Homo sapiens: one gene and its partner. The protein of the gene in region 1 interacts with the protein of each later gene in a biochemical or structural test. Each region holds a gene or a part of one and is shown in the gene's direction. Other genes may lie near its edges.

Region 1 (7,162 bases):
TGGCAGGAAGTGAGTCATAGGATAGAGAATCACAAGAGAGCAGCTTGTTCTCTCCTAAAACACAGTGGGGTTTGATCTTAAAGACCAAGGCAATAACTGGAATGAAAACCTTGGTTGAAATCTGGGGCTTGACATGTTCTTGCTGTGTGACCTTAGAGCAGACACTATCCCTCTGGTTCTCCATTGCCTTATATCTGAAGTGAGGGGCCTGGGCCAGTTCAGCAGAGTCCAGTTCTAGTGTTGTTTGTTTGTTTGTTTGTTTGTTTTCCCCCCAAGACAGAGTCTTGCTCTGTCACCCAGGCTGGAGTGCAGTGGCACAATCTCGGCTCACTGCAACTTCCGCCTCCCGGGTTTAAGCCATTCTCCTGCCTCAGCTTCCAGAGTAGCTGGGATTACAGGCATGCACAACCACACCCAGCTAATTTTTGTATTTTTAGTAGAGATGGGGTTTCACCATGTTGGCCAGGATGGTCTCGAATTCCTGACCTTGTGATCCGCCCACCTCGGCCTCCCATAGTGTTGGGACTACAGGCGTGAGCCCAGTGCGCCCGCCCCCAGTTCTAGTATTCTAAGTCACTTCCATAAACTGGGGACAATTTTGCCTCCCAAGAGACATTTGGTAATATCTGTAGACATTTTTGGTTGTCACAGTTGAGGGTGGGGTGCTACTGGTGTCTAGTGGATAGAGAGGCCAGGGATACTGCTAAAAGCATCCTATGATGCTCAGGACCGCTCCTTACAATATTATTAATAAAACACTATCTGGCCCACAGGTCAGTAGTGCCACTGTTGAGAAACCCTGCTTTAGGCTGGGTGTGGTGGCTCACGCCTGTAATCCCAGCACTTTGGGAGGCTGAGGCGCGTGGATCACATGAGGTCAGGAGTTTGAGACCAACCTGGCCAACATGATGAAATTCCGTCTTTACTAAAATACAAAAATTAGCCGGGCATGGTGGCGTGTACCTGTAATCCCAGCTACTCAGGAGGCTGAGGCATGAGAATCGCTTGAACCTGGGAGGCGGAGGTTGCAGTGAGGCAAGATTGAGCCACTGCACTCCAGCCTGGGTGACAGAGCGAGGCTCCATCTCAAAAAAAACAAAAACCAAAAAACAAACCCTGCTTTAATGTCAGATACTTTGCTGTCAACTGTCTTCACCAGTGAAACAATGGGGCACAAAGAATCAAAAACAGCAGAGAATAGTTGGTTACAAACGGCATTTGACTGGACTGCGGTTAAAACTGAATCTCACACCGGCTTGGAACCAACTCTTTGCTGCTCAGCCTCGTGGCCAGAGTTTGGGAACCCCGCAGGGGCCACAGGAAAGGCCAGTGTTCTTCACAGATAAGTAGGAGCATGTGTATAATGTTAGTCAGCTGACATTCAAGTGGGCCAATATCCAACCTCAACCAGAAAAAGAAAGATTCTTTTATTTATTTATTTAGAGACAGAGTTTCACTCTTGTTGCCCAGGCTGGAGTGCAATGGTGTGATCTCGGCTCACTGCAACCGCTGCCTCCCAGGTTCAAGCAATTCTCCTGCCTCAGCCTCCCGAGTAGCTGGGATTAAAGGGATGTGCCACCACGCCCGGCTAATTTTTTTGTATTTTAGTAGAGATGGGGTTTCTCTATGTTGGTCAGGCTGGTCTTGAACTTCTGACTTCAGGTGATCCGCCCGCCTCGGCCTCCCAAAGTGCTGGGATTACAGGCGTGAGCCACCGCGCCCGGCCAAGAAAGATTCTTTATATCCTCAAATAAGAAAACATGTCACTCCCCTGGAATTTTCCAGGGCACTCAGGAAAACTACAGGCCCTAGGTTGGAGGTGCTCACTCCTTGAAAGTGTTTTCTGGGGCCTGGGGTTGCATTAAATGTTTTTGTTTTTTGTTTCTTTTTGAGACGGAGTCTCGCTCTGTCACCCAGGCTGGAGTGCAGTGGCATGATCTCGGCTCACTGCAATCCCCGCCTCCTGGGTTCAAGCAATTCCCTTGCCCCAGCCTCCTGAGTAGCTGGGACTACAGGCATCCGCCACCATCCCCGGCTAATTTTTTTTTGTATTTTTAGTAGAGACAGGGTTTCACCATGTTGGCCAGGCTGGTCTTGGACTCCTGCCTCCCAAAGTGCTGGGATTACAGGTGTGAGCTACCGTGCCCAGCCTAAATGTTGAACTTTAGATGGTTTATTTAGTCAATAATCAGACACTAGTCTGATGTATAAACTAGACATAATGTAAATAGCCAAAATGTTCTTGTCTCACTGCGGGTCTCAGAAAATTGATACCCAGAGAGGGAAGGAGGCTGTACCAGTCACCCAGCTGGTCCTCAAAGCTCAGAAGGTATCAGAAGCCCTGCCTGCCTCTTGTGTGACAGGCTCTGGCCTTGCTCTGTCCCCTCCACCCCCACAGTAGCTTTCCACAGCCCCACCACCAGGATCAAGAAGGAGCCCCAGAGTCCCCGCACAGACCCGGCCCTGTCCTGCAGCAGGAAGCCGCCACTCCCCTACCACCATGGCGAGCAGTGCCTTTACTCCAGGTGAGCCCCAGCCTGGACCTGGTGAAGGGTAGGAGAAGGGTTCCAGAGGAGGGAGGCAGGGGGCACCCATGAGCAGAGGCAGCAGCTGAGATGCAAGTTAGACAACAGAAAGGATTTTCTAGCACTTGTAAGGAAGCAATACAGCTAAGGATTTCCTCTGAATAGACGGAAAACGCAGCAGAGGGCCTCAGGAATATATACTGAGGCCAGAGCAGATTCTGTTTCCACCAAGAGGCCCACTGTCCCACCTAAACCATTGCTCTGAGCAACAAATCCCCCCTGTATGAATCCCAGGGGTTCAAGACTAGCCTGGGCAACAGAGGGAGACTGTCTCTGAAAAAGAAAAGAATTGGCTAGGGCTGAGTCTGTGGCTCCTGCCGTTCCCTTCTCAGCCCCCTCTATCCTTCCTTCTCCTGTAATCCCTGTGACCTCGCTTTCCTAGGAATGAAGGGTTCAAAGATGCTTTCCAGCTTCTCTGCCCCCTCACCCCTGTCTCCTTCTCAACTCCAGTGCCTATGACCCCCCCAGACAAATCGCCATCAAGTCCCCTGCCCCTGGTGCCCTTGGACAGTCGCCCCTACAGCCCTTTCCCCGGGCAGAGCAACGGAATTTCCTGAGATCCTCTGGCACCTCCCAGCCCCACCCTGGCCATGGGTACCTCGGGGAACATAGGTAAGGAGACAGGGAAACCCACTGCTCATGGGCCCAGGTGTTTTTTCAATTCCTGAGTGTTCTCCATAAAGACTTGAGCTGTGGGGTGGTAGAGGCAGGGGGCAGTGGAATAGAAAGGGAGAAATACTGACACCCCAACCCCCTACCCCCCATTCCGGAGCCCACTCTAAAAGCCTAGGAGTAACAGGCTCGAGGAAGGATTAATTTAAAGTTCTCTTCTCTTCCTTCTCCATCCAACCACATCCAGCTCCGTCTTCCAGCAGCCCCTGGACATTTGCCACTCCTTCACATCTCAGGGAGGGGGCCGGGAACCCCTCCCAGCCCCCTACCAACACCAGCTGTCGGAGCCCTGCCCACCCTATCCCCAGCAGAGCTTTAAGCAAGAATACCATGATCCCCTGTATGAACAGGCGGGCCAGCCAGCCGTGGACCAGGGTGGGGTCAATGGGCACAGGTACCCAGGGGCGGGGGTGGTGATCAAACAGGAACAGACGGACTTCGCCTACGACTCAGGTAAGAGACTGGGGTGGGGCAGGGTGGCATGTGATCAAGTGTTCAGTTAAGCCCAGAATGTCTCCCGAGTTTTTTTACATTGCTGTTTACCATTTCATACATCCAACCCACCCACCCACTTTTTTTCTTCATAATTTCAAAAGAATGTTATTTTTCTTTCTTTTTCTTTTTTTTTTTGAAATGGGGTCCTGCTCTGGCCCAGGCTAGAGTGCAGTGGCACGATCTCTGCTCACTGCAACCTCTGCCTACCGGGTTCAAGCGATTCTTGTGCCTCAGCCTCCCGAGTACCTGGGATTACAGGCACCAGCCACCGTGCCCGGCTAATTTTTGTATTTTTAGTAGAGATGGGGTTTCGCCATGCTGGCCAGGATGGTCTCGAACTCCTGACTTCATATGATCCATCGCCTCGGCCTCCCAAAGTGCTGTGATTATAGACATGAGCCACCTCACCCGGACAAATTATTACTTTTCAATGAGCAAACCTATATTCAGATTAAAAGATAAGGGGGGCCCCCGGGGCATGGTGAGTCATCTGTAATCCCAGCACTTTAGGAGGCCATGGCAGGAGGATCGTTTGAGCCCAGGAATTAGTTCAAGGCCAGCTTAGGCAACAAAGTGAGACCTCGTGTCTATTTATAAAAAAGTAAAATTAAAATAAAGGGGGATGTAGATCCTGCCCTCAGGTAGCTTGTGACTTAATAGGGAAGTTAAGGCATTTATTTCTATTTAACAGGTGTTTGAGGTTTTAATTACCTATTAAGACCAAACTACTGTGACAGGAACACGAGTGTGCAGAGTTGGGAAATACAAAGATGAATAGGATGTGTCTGGTCCCTATCCCCACAGAGGCTTAAAAATACAAAGGGATTTGAATGAAGAGAAACATGAATTTGAAACTAGCCAGGCTCATGGTTCTTGCTAGTTCTCAATAGGAGGGCAGGGTTTTCTTGTTTTGTTTTGTTTTGTTTGTTTTGAGACAGAGTCTTGCTCTGTTTGTTTGTTTTGAGATGGAGTCTTGCTCTCTCGCCCAGGCTGGAGTGCCACTGGGTTCAAGCGATTCTCATGCTTCAGCCTCCCGAATAGCTGGGGTTACAGGTGCCCATCACCATGCCCAGCTAGTTTTTGTATTTTTAGTAGAGACGGGGTTTCACCATGTTGATCAAGCTGGTAGAAGCACAGGTTAATATGTGGCTTACATATTTGAGCCTCCCAATTGATGTATGCCCTGGCCAGAGGCAAGGGCAGAGGAAGTAGGGACTTCTTTAAATTCTAGTTCCACCTGGCTGTTGACTGGAGTGAGATGCACTCACCTGTGTTCATAAATAGCTATAGTTCAAAGCCTCAAGGGCCGAAGGAGGGCCAGTCCCAGGAAGGGTCCAGAAAACCCTGCCTTTTCTTCTTTCCTCCTGGCTTTTGTTACATTAGTAGCCCTAGATCTGAGTTTATTAGAGTAGGCCCAGAGCTAGCTAGAACTTTAGAATTTCCCTTTTTGTGGTGCCCACAACCGTTCAAGGGCAGGGGGATGAACCACAACCCCCCAGGCTGTCCAACTAAGAACCGGATGGTGCTCCTGTCCTCAAATCCAGGGCATAAGCCTGAGCCAGGCTTGGCAGTGAGCTGGGGAGAGGAGGAGGGAGGCACTCTTGCCGCTGACCTTCAAAGGCTGTAGACCGGAGGGGATTGTGTTACATGCCCTTGAACTCCTGCCCCTCCCCCCAGCTACTCCTGAATGGAGTCAGGAATTCCATTCACAAAATGGAGGCATGAATGAGCCCACCCTCCCGCCTCCTCCCGGAGGTGTCATGTTTCACCATCTTCTCATTCATAGGTGGGAGTGCAGTGGGGGGAGGGCGGGAAGGGGTTGGAACTTGAACGGGTGGCTTCACACAGCCGCCTTCCCGATGTGGAGTGGGAAGGTTCCTATCCTATGGAATGGAATGAAACGAAGTGGAATGTGCTCTGTTAGACCTGAAAAAACAAGGCCCAGTGCCCACTGCCTCTTCCCCAGGTGCATGCAGGCGCACGCTCTGTTTCTGTCACACACACACACACACACACACACACGCGCGCGTGCACAGGGCTGGGAACCTGACCTGCTGACCGGACATTTTTGTCCATTCTGAGGGAGTCTTAGGCGTGGACACCGAACTCTTTCCCCGGACGTTCATCTCACCCTCCCTCCTCCCCCTGAACTCGCAGGAAACAGCTGCTCCCTGGCAGCTTGGGCCCTTCAGAACAGCTTGCCCAGCCCCCGCTGCTGCCTTCCATGGCCTCAGCCGCAGCCCTCAAGTTGAGGAGGGGTTCCAGCATCACACTCCCTCTGGGTGAACTTTCCCTGGGATTTTGTGGTTGGCAGGCAACCTGGGCAAAGAACAGTCACCAGGAAGCAGGCTGGAAGGAAGAAATTCTTGAATGTGGATAGGACTTCCTCCTCCCCTGCCCTCGAGCTCCACCCCAAGCCACTTCTCACATCACCCCTTCTTCCCCCACAGATGTCACCGGGTGCGCATCAATGTACCTCCACACAGAGGGCTTCTCTGGGCCCTCTCCAGGTGACGGGGCCATGGGTAAGGCAGCCCCCCTTCCCCTGCCAAGCCCTCCATGTTGGGGGAGGGAGCGCTGCCATGGGGGAGGGTCTCCCTGGCCAGGAGTCCCTCTGGACTCTCTGGGGTCTCATCGGTGAACCCCCAGATCTGAGCAACCCCCAATTTCCTCCACAAGGCTATGGCTATGAGAAACCTCTGCGACCATTCCCAGATGATGTCTGCGTTGTCCCTGAGAAATTTGAAGGTCAGAGAAGTGACTGTTGATGGGAGGGTCAAGGTCTTATCACGCTGTGTCCCTGCAGGAGTCACATCACGTTTCATTGTTGCAAGAGGGTGGGACCCATAGAAAAGTACCTGGGGAGACCCCTTCGAGAAATCCCTCGGGTGGGAGGCGGTTGCTTGGGGGACCAAAAGACACAAACCCCACACCTCCTATTTTCGTGTTCCCCAGGAGACATCAAGCAGGAAGGGGTCGGTGCATTTCGAGAGGGGCCGCCCTACCAGCGCCGGGGTGCCCTGCAGCTGTGGCAATTTCTGGTGGCCTTGCTGGATGACCCAACAAATGCCCATTTCATTGCCTGGACGGGCCGGGGAATGGAGTTCAAGCTCATTGAGCCTGAGGAGGTGGGCCTCTCGGATGTTCCCAGCCCTCCTTTCCAAAGTTTACAGCCTGGAGGTGGGAGAACCTGGGAAATGGTGGCACGTGCCTCCATCATGATTCTTGCTTTACCTAACCTGAATTCTTGCCAAGCCTAAGTCTGTGGGCTGATGCTTTGTTGCAGAGCTAGCTTGGCACTTTGCACCAAGAATCTCAAGTGCTCTTTCTGACCTTACCCCCATTTTTTCCTCTGCCAAGGTAGCATCTCTACCCCAAAACTGTTTTGTTCCCAGGTCGCCAGGCTCTGG
Region 2 (5,533 bases), on another chromosome or scaffold:
AGAGGTTGCAGTGAACCGAGATCACGCTACTGCACTCTAGCCTGGGTGACAGAGTGAGACTCCGTCTCGAAAAAAAGAAAAAGATCACATTGTAAGTAGAGGATGTAGAAATCTTTTTTTGGCATTGTAGCTAAAGAAATAATGTCCAAGAGTTGCTTTAGGCCACCAAGCTTTGGACCCAGTTTTATGCTTCAGCAATAAAAGTTATTTACTGTTTTAAAGAAACAAAAAACCAAAACCTTGCCCTGATTTGAAAGTGCATGTAGAGTTTTTGATTATCACAGAAATTTGTTGTGTACCGTCTTTTTTATTATAAGTTCAGTGCTTTGAAAATTAGAATCCAAGGTGGGTATGGTTGGCTCACGCCTGTAATCCCAGCACTTTAGGAGACCAAGGTGGGAGGATGGCTTGAGCCCAAGATTTCAAGACCAGCCTGGGCAACATTATGAGACCCTATCTCTCATTTTTTTTTAAATAAAAATTAAAAAAAAAATTAGAATCCACATATTTGGTGTATACATAGTGTATGCTTTGAGGAACAACAGGATTTCTCTGGTGCTCCTTTGCTTTCTAAATAGTCATAGCAGTGACCTGTGTGATTCTCCTACAGTGAAGACCTAGGAAAGGACGTTGAATTTGAAGTTGTTGGTGATGCCCCGGAAAAAGTGGGGCCCAAACAAGCTGAAGATGCTGCCAAAAGCATAACCAATGGCAGTGATGATGGAGCTCAGCCCTCCACCTCCACAGGTGAGTATGGCCCCAGCCAGCAGGTTGTTAAATACCCACAAAGCAGAAGTAAAAACAAACTGATTATTAGGAACATTGACCATAAATCCATAAAACTACTAGAGGTGTGTATTGGTTTGGTATTGATTGTTGTAATGGAGCTTTGAATTTATGAACCATGAAGACATTTAAGGCTGGGTGTGGTGGCTTACACCTGTAATCCCAGCACTTTGAGAGGCCAAGATGGGAGTATTACTTGAGGCCAGGAGTTGGAGAACAGCCTGGGCAACACAATGAGAGACCCCCATCTCTACAAAGAAAAAAAAAAATTAACCACGCATGGTAGCGTGTACCTGTAGTCTCCGCTACTCAGGAGGCTGAAGTGGTTCACTTGAACCCAGGAGTTCGACACTGCAGTGAGCCATGATTGCACCACTGCACTGCAGCCTGGGCAACAGCAAGACCATGTCTCAAAAAAAAAAAAAAAAAAGTCATTTAAGGCCTGGCATGGTGGCTCACACCTGTAACCCCAACGCTTTGGGAGGCCGAGGCGGGCAGATCGCCTGAGCTCAGGAGTTTGACACTAACCTGGGCAACACAGGGAAATCCCATCTGTACTAAAAATACAAAAAATTAGCTGGGCGTGGCAGCATGCGTCTGTAGTCCCAGCTACTCGGGAGGCTGAGGCAGGAGGCGGAGGTTGCAGTGAGCTGGGATCGCGCCACTGCACTCCATCCAGCCTGGGTGACAGAGCGAGGCTTCCGGCTCCAAACAAACAAGTCATTTAAGACTGGGGGAAATTCTTATGGAAATTTCTTACAGAAAATAAGAACACTTTGTTATTTTTTGTTAATTGGTTTTTAACAGTTTGAAATGATAGTTTACTAGTGTGCAAAGTCAGCCTATGTAGTAGCAGGTTGGGGTTTTGTATGCTTGTTTTAAGGAGCAATAAATCCATGCATCTGACTATTTTGAGTGAACAGGTGCTTGTTAAGTATGGAATTTAGGCATGTTAGAGTTTCCTTGTCACCAGTATGACTTGGGTATAGTCCTTTCCCCTGGATTTTCAGTGCTGGTGCTTGGTATTTTTCCAAATAACTGATTGTTTACTGTATTCTGATTTGAATATTTACTCCTCTCCCTTTCTTCCTTTAGTTAGGAAACTAAAGGTTACCAGATTTTGACTTCTTTGTTTTCATTTCTTTGACCCTATGTCTGTGGCATTCTTTGGAATATGTTTACTCTTGGCTCTAATGTTCTCTTGAGAATTTTGGAGACGAACATTCAGATTATGGCCTGGGTCATTGGTTCATAACCTGTTTTTTCCCCCCTCACTGAAATTAGAAAGGTCCGTCATCTTCCTTTGAGGAAGAGACTATCTGGTAGATTTTCCAAAATCATAATTTGAAATGTACATTTATTGATTCTCTACTGTGGGTAGGTTTCCAAGGTTACAGCCATGAGTAAGATAGGTATTCTGCCTTTGATTTTGTTGGACGAGGAGATAAAACCACCTTTAGTATCAGTTCTGCATTGGGGATGGTTCCTGGCTTCATCCTCTGCTACTATGTAAGCTTGGGAAGTCATTCACTGAGTTTCCTTTCCTGGAAAGCAGATACTCATGTGATCTTCTTTATAGGGTTGTGATGATTAAATGAGTTGTCATATGCACAGTGCTCAGAACAGTTCCTGGCACATTGTAAGTGCTGTATTGTTGTTGCTATTGTTACCACTACTACCATTATTAGAATATGTACCCTCTGCTTTTCTATTGGAGAATGTGGAGGTAGAATCAAGGATGTGTAATGAGTACTTTGAGTTACATAATGCTTGTCACAATTTTTTGTTTTGATTAGAAAATAAATAGGTTCTTATATAAAACATTTAAAACAGTATGGAAATACGTAATGTGTAAAGTGAAAATGCAGCCATTCTTAAGTCTGGTGTGTATTAGAAGAGTCAGCTTTCAATTATAGAAAATACAGGTGAGCACAGGTAACTCCCACGCTTTTACCCATTTTCTTTTTCCCTTTTTTCTGAAATAAGCTCAAGAGCAAGATGACGTTCTCATAGTTGATTCAGATGAAGAAGATTCTTCAAATAATGCCGACGTCAGTGAAGAAGAGAGAAGCCGCAAGAGGAAATTAGATGAGAAAGAGAATCTCAGTGCAAAGAGGTCACGTATAGAACAGAAGGAAGAGCTTGATGATGTCATAGCATTAGATTGAACAGAAATGCCTCTAAACAGAACCCTCTTACTATTTAGTTTATCTGGGCAGAACCAGATTGTTATGTCCTTTGTTCCAAAGGGAAAAAATTGACAGCAGTGACTTGAAAATGATTCTGCTCCCTTTGAAAGCATTCATTTTGCTAGAACTGTTAGACACATTGCAGTATGCTGTATTGAAAGTAGGAATATAGTTTTAAAAACCCTTTGAACAAAGTGTGTGCATAACCAGTCATGAGATAAAACAACACAATGCATGTTGCCTTTTTAATGTAAATACCCGTAGGTATCATTAATAGTTTCAAAATATTGTGGTTTAGTAAAGTTGATACCTGGTTATAAATATTATGCCTTTATTTTTGGCTAGAAGAAGAATTATTTTTAGCCTAGATCTAACCATTTTCATACTCTTAACTGATTGAAACAGATTCAAAGAAGTATCGAGTGCTATGCATTGAAACTTGTTTTTAAATGTTAGATGGCACTATGTATATTAATGTAAAACAATGTTAATTTACTCAAGTTTTCAGTTTGTACCGCCTGGTATGTCTGTGTAAGAAGCCAATTTTTGTGTATTGTTACAGTTTCAGGTTATTTATATTCGATGTTTTGTAAAACTCAAATAACGACTATACTTATGGACCAAATAAATGGCATCTGCATTCTTGTTACACATGCCTGCACAGTTCCTGTTTCTGCTGCCTTATATCTACTGCAGGAATGTCAAATTCTTTTCATTAAAAAAAGAACTCGGTCGGGCACGGTGGCTCATGCCTGTAATCCCAGCACTTTGGAAGGCTGAGGCAGGTGGATCACCTGAGGTCAGTAGTTCAAGACCAACCTGGTCAACATGGTGAAACCCCATCTCTACTAAAAAAAAAAAAAAAAATTAGCCGGGCCTGGTGGCAGGCACCTGTAATTCCAGCTACTCAGGAGGCTAAGGCAGCAGAATTGCTTGAACCCGGGAGGCAGAGGTTGCAGTGAGCCAAGATTGTGCTATTGCTACTCCAGCCAGGGCGATGAGTGAAACTCCATCTCAAAAAAGGTTCAGAAGATCTCCACTGTTTGCCAAAGACGAGTACTTTCTTTTCTTTATTCTTGGAGACTTCACATGTAGGAAGAGTACTTTCTAAAATAAAGCTCTTCCTGCGTGTGGTGGTGGTGCACATCTGTGTTCCAGCTACTCAGGAGGCTGAGGCAGGAGGATGGCTGGAGCCCAGAAGTTCAAGGCCAGCCTGGGTAACATAGCAAGACCCTGTCTCTAAAAAATAAGTAAATAAAATAAAGCTTTTAATGGCAGTGGGTTTTTTGTTCGTTTTTGAGATGAAGCCTCACACTGTCATCTGGCCTGGAGTGCAGTGGCGCGATCCTGGCTCACTGCAGCCTCCGCCTTCCAGGTGCAAGCGATTCTCCTGTCTCAGCCTCCCCTGTAGCTGGGATTACAGGCGCCCTCCACCACGCTCAGCTAATTTTTTGTATTTTTAGTAGAGATGGGGTTTCACTATGTTGGCCAGGCTGGTCTGGAACTCCTGACCTCGTGATCCACCTGCCTCAGCCTCCCAAAGTGCTGGGATTACAGGCGTGAGCCACTGCGCCTGGCCTAATGGCAGTGTTTTTAAAATTTGGATTGTCAGCAGTTGGCCTTTGTTGAGAAAATGTGTGACTTTGCCCAAGCCCAGTAACTTGGAGCCTTGAATTTGAGATGCTGGAAAGGGAGTCCTTCCTCCTTTCTGCAGTGTTTGTCTGGGTTGTCCCCTAGTTTACCAAAGTCCATTTTGAATGTACCATCCCCAGCCCAACTCCAGCCTACAGATAGTGCCAGACCGCCAGTAGGTGGAGTAGCACTGTCTTCCTGGTCCCGGACCTCAGAGGGCTTTGCCTGTTAGGGTACTCTTATCACTCAGAGATGGGCCTTGAGTTTTCAGAGAACAGAAAGCCATTAAGCTGTTTCCCCTATTGTATTCATGTGCCCTTTGTGTTTCTGGCAATAATTTATTTTATATTTCAACTAAATTTTAAATTTCTAATTCATGTATTGTTCCTTGTGTAATTTGTACTGTACCATTCAGCTTATTAACCATTACTCCTTGTTTTCCACCATTTGTAAATTCAGCATGTAATCAGAGCTTTCAGAAAAACCATGTAGAAGACTGGGTGTGGTGGCTCACACCCATAAGCCTTGCACTTTGAGAGGCTGAGGCAGGAGGATCGTTTGAGCCCAGGAGTTTGAGACCAGCCTGAGCAACATGGCAAAACCCCATCTCTACAAAAAATACAAAAAGTAGCTGAGCCTGGTGGCACTTGCCTGTAGCCCCAGCTATTCGGGAGGCTGATGGAGGAGGATCGCTTGAGCCTGGGAGGCGGGGTGTGCAGTGAGCCAAGATTGTACCACTGTACTTCAGACTGGGTGACAGAATGAGACCCTGTCTCTGAAAAGAAAAAAAAAGTCATGTTGACTAAGACTCAGCCTTCTGGAGCCCCAGAGTGGAGTGACTTTCACCTGTGAGCTTCATCTGCCTTTAGGTTTTTAGAAGGTGTTTAATTTTCCTCCAGAAAATAATTTGAAACTTAACTATGTAA

What was found.
Region 2: of the proteins of ETV4 (region 1) and UBA2, one has a biochemical effect on the other in vitro, tested with the Homo sapiens proteins (one study listed by BioGRID).

What each region holds. Positions count from the first base shown.
Region 1 is NC_000017.11:43,529,222-43,536,383, reverse strand, and holds part of ETV4 (ETS translocation variant 4), read left to right. Parts: intron 1-2,398; coding exon 2,399-2,525; intron 2,526-3,035; coding exon 3,036-3,197; intron 3,198-3,444; coding exon 3,445-3,710; intron 3,711-5,948; exon of another isoform or gene 5,949-6,202; coding exon 6,203-6,277; intron 6,278-6,431; coding exon 6,432-6,500; intron 6,501-6,707; coding exon 6,708-6,880; intron 6,881-7,147; coding exon 7,148-7,162.
Region 2 is NC_000019.10:34,466,268-34,471,800, forward strand, and holds the end of UBA2 (SUMO-activating enzyme subunit 2), read left to right. Parts: intron 1-610; coding exon 611-747; intron 748-2,772; coding exon 2,773-2,954; 3' UTR 2,955-4,984; downstream 4,985-5,533. UniProt on the Homo sapiens protein: The heterodimer acts as an E1 ligase for SUMO1, SUMO2, SUMO3, and probably SUMO4. It mediates ATP-dependent activation of SUMO proteins followed by formation of a thioester bond between a SUMO protein and a conserved active site cysteine residue on UBA2/SAE2.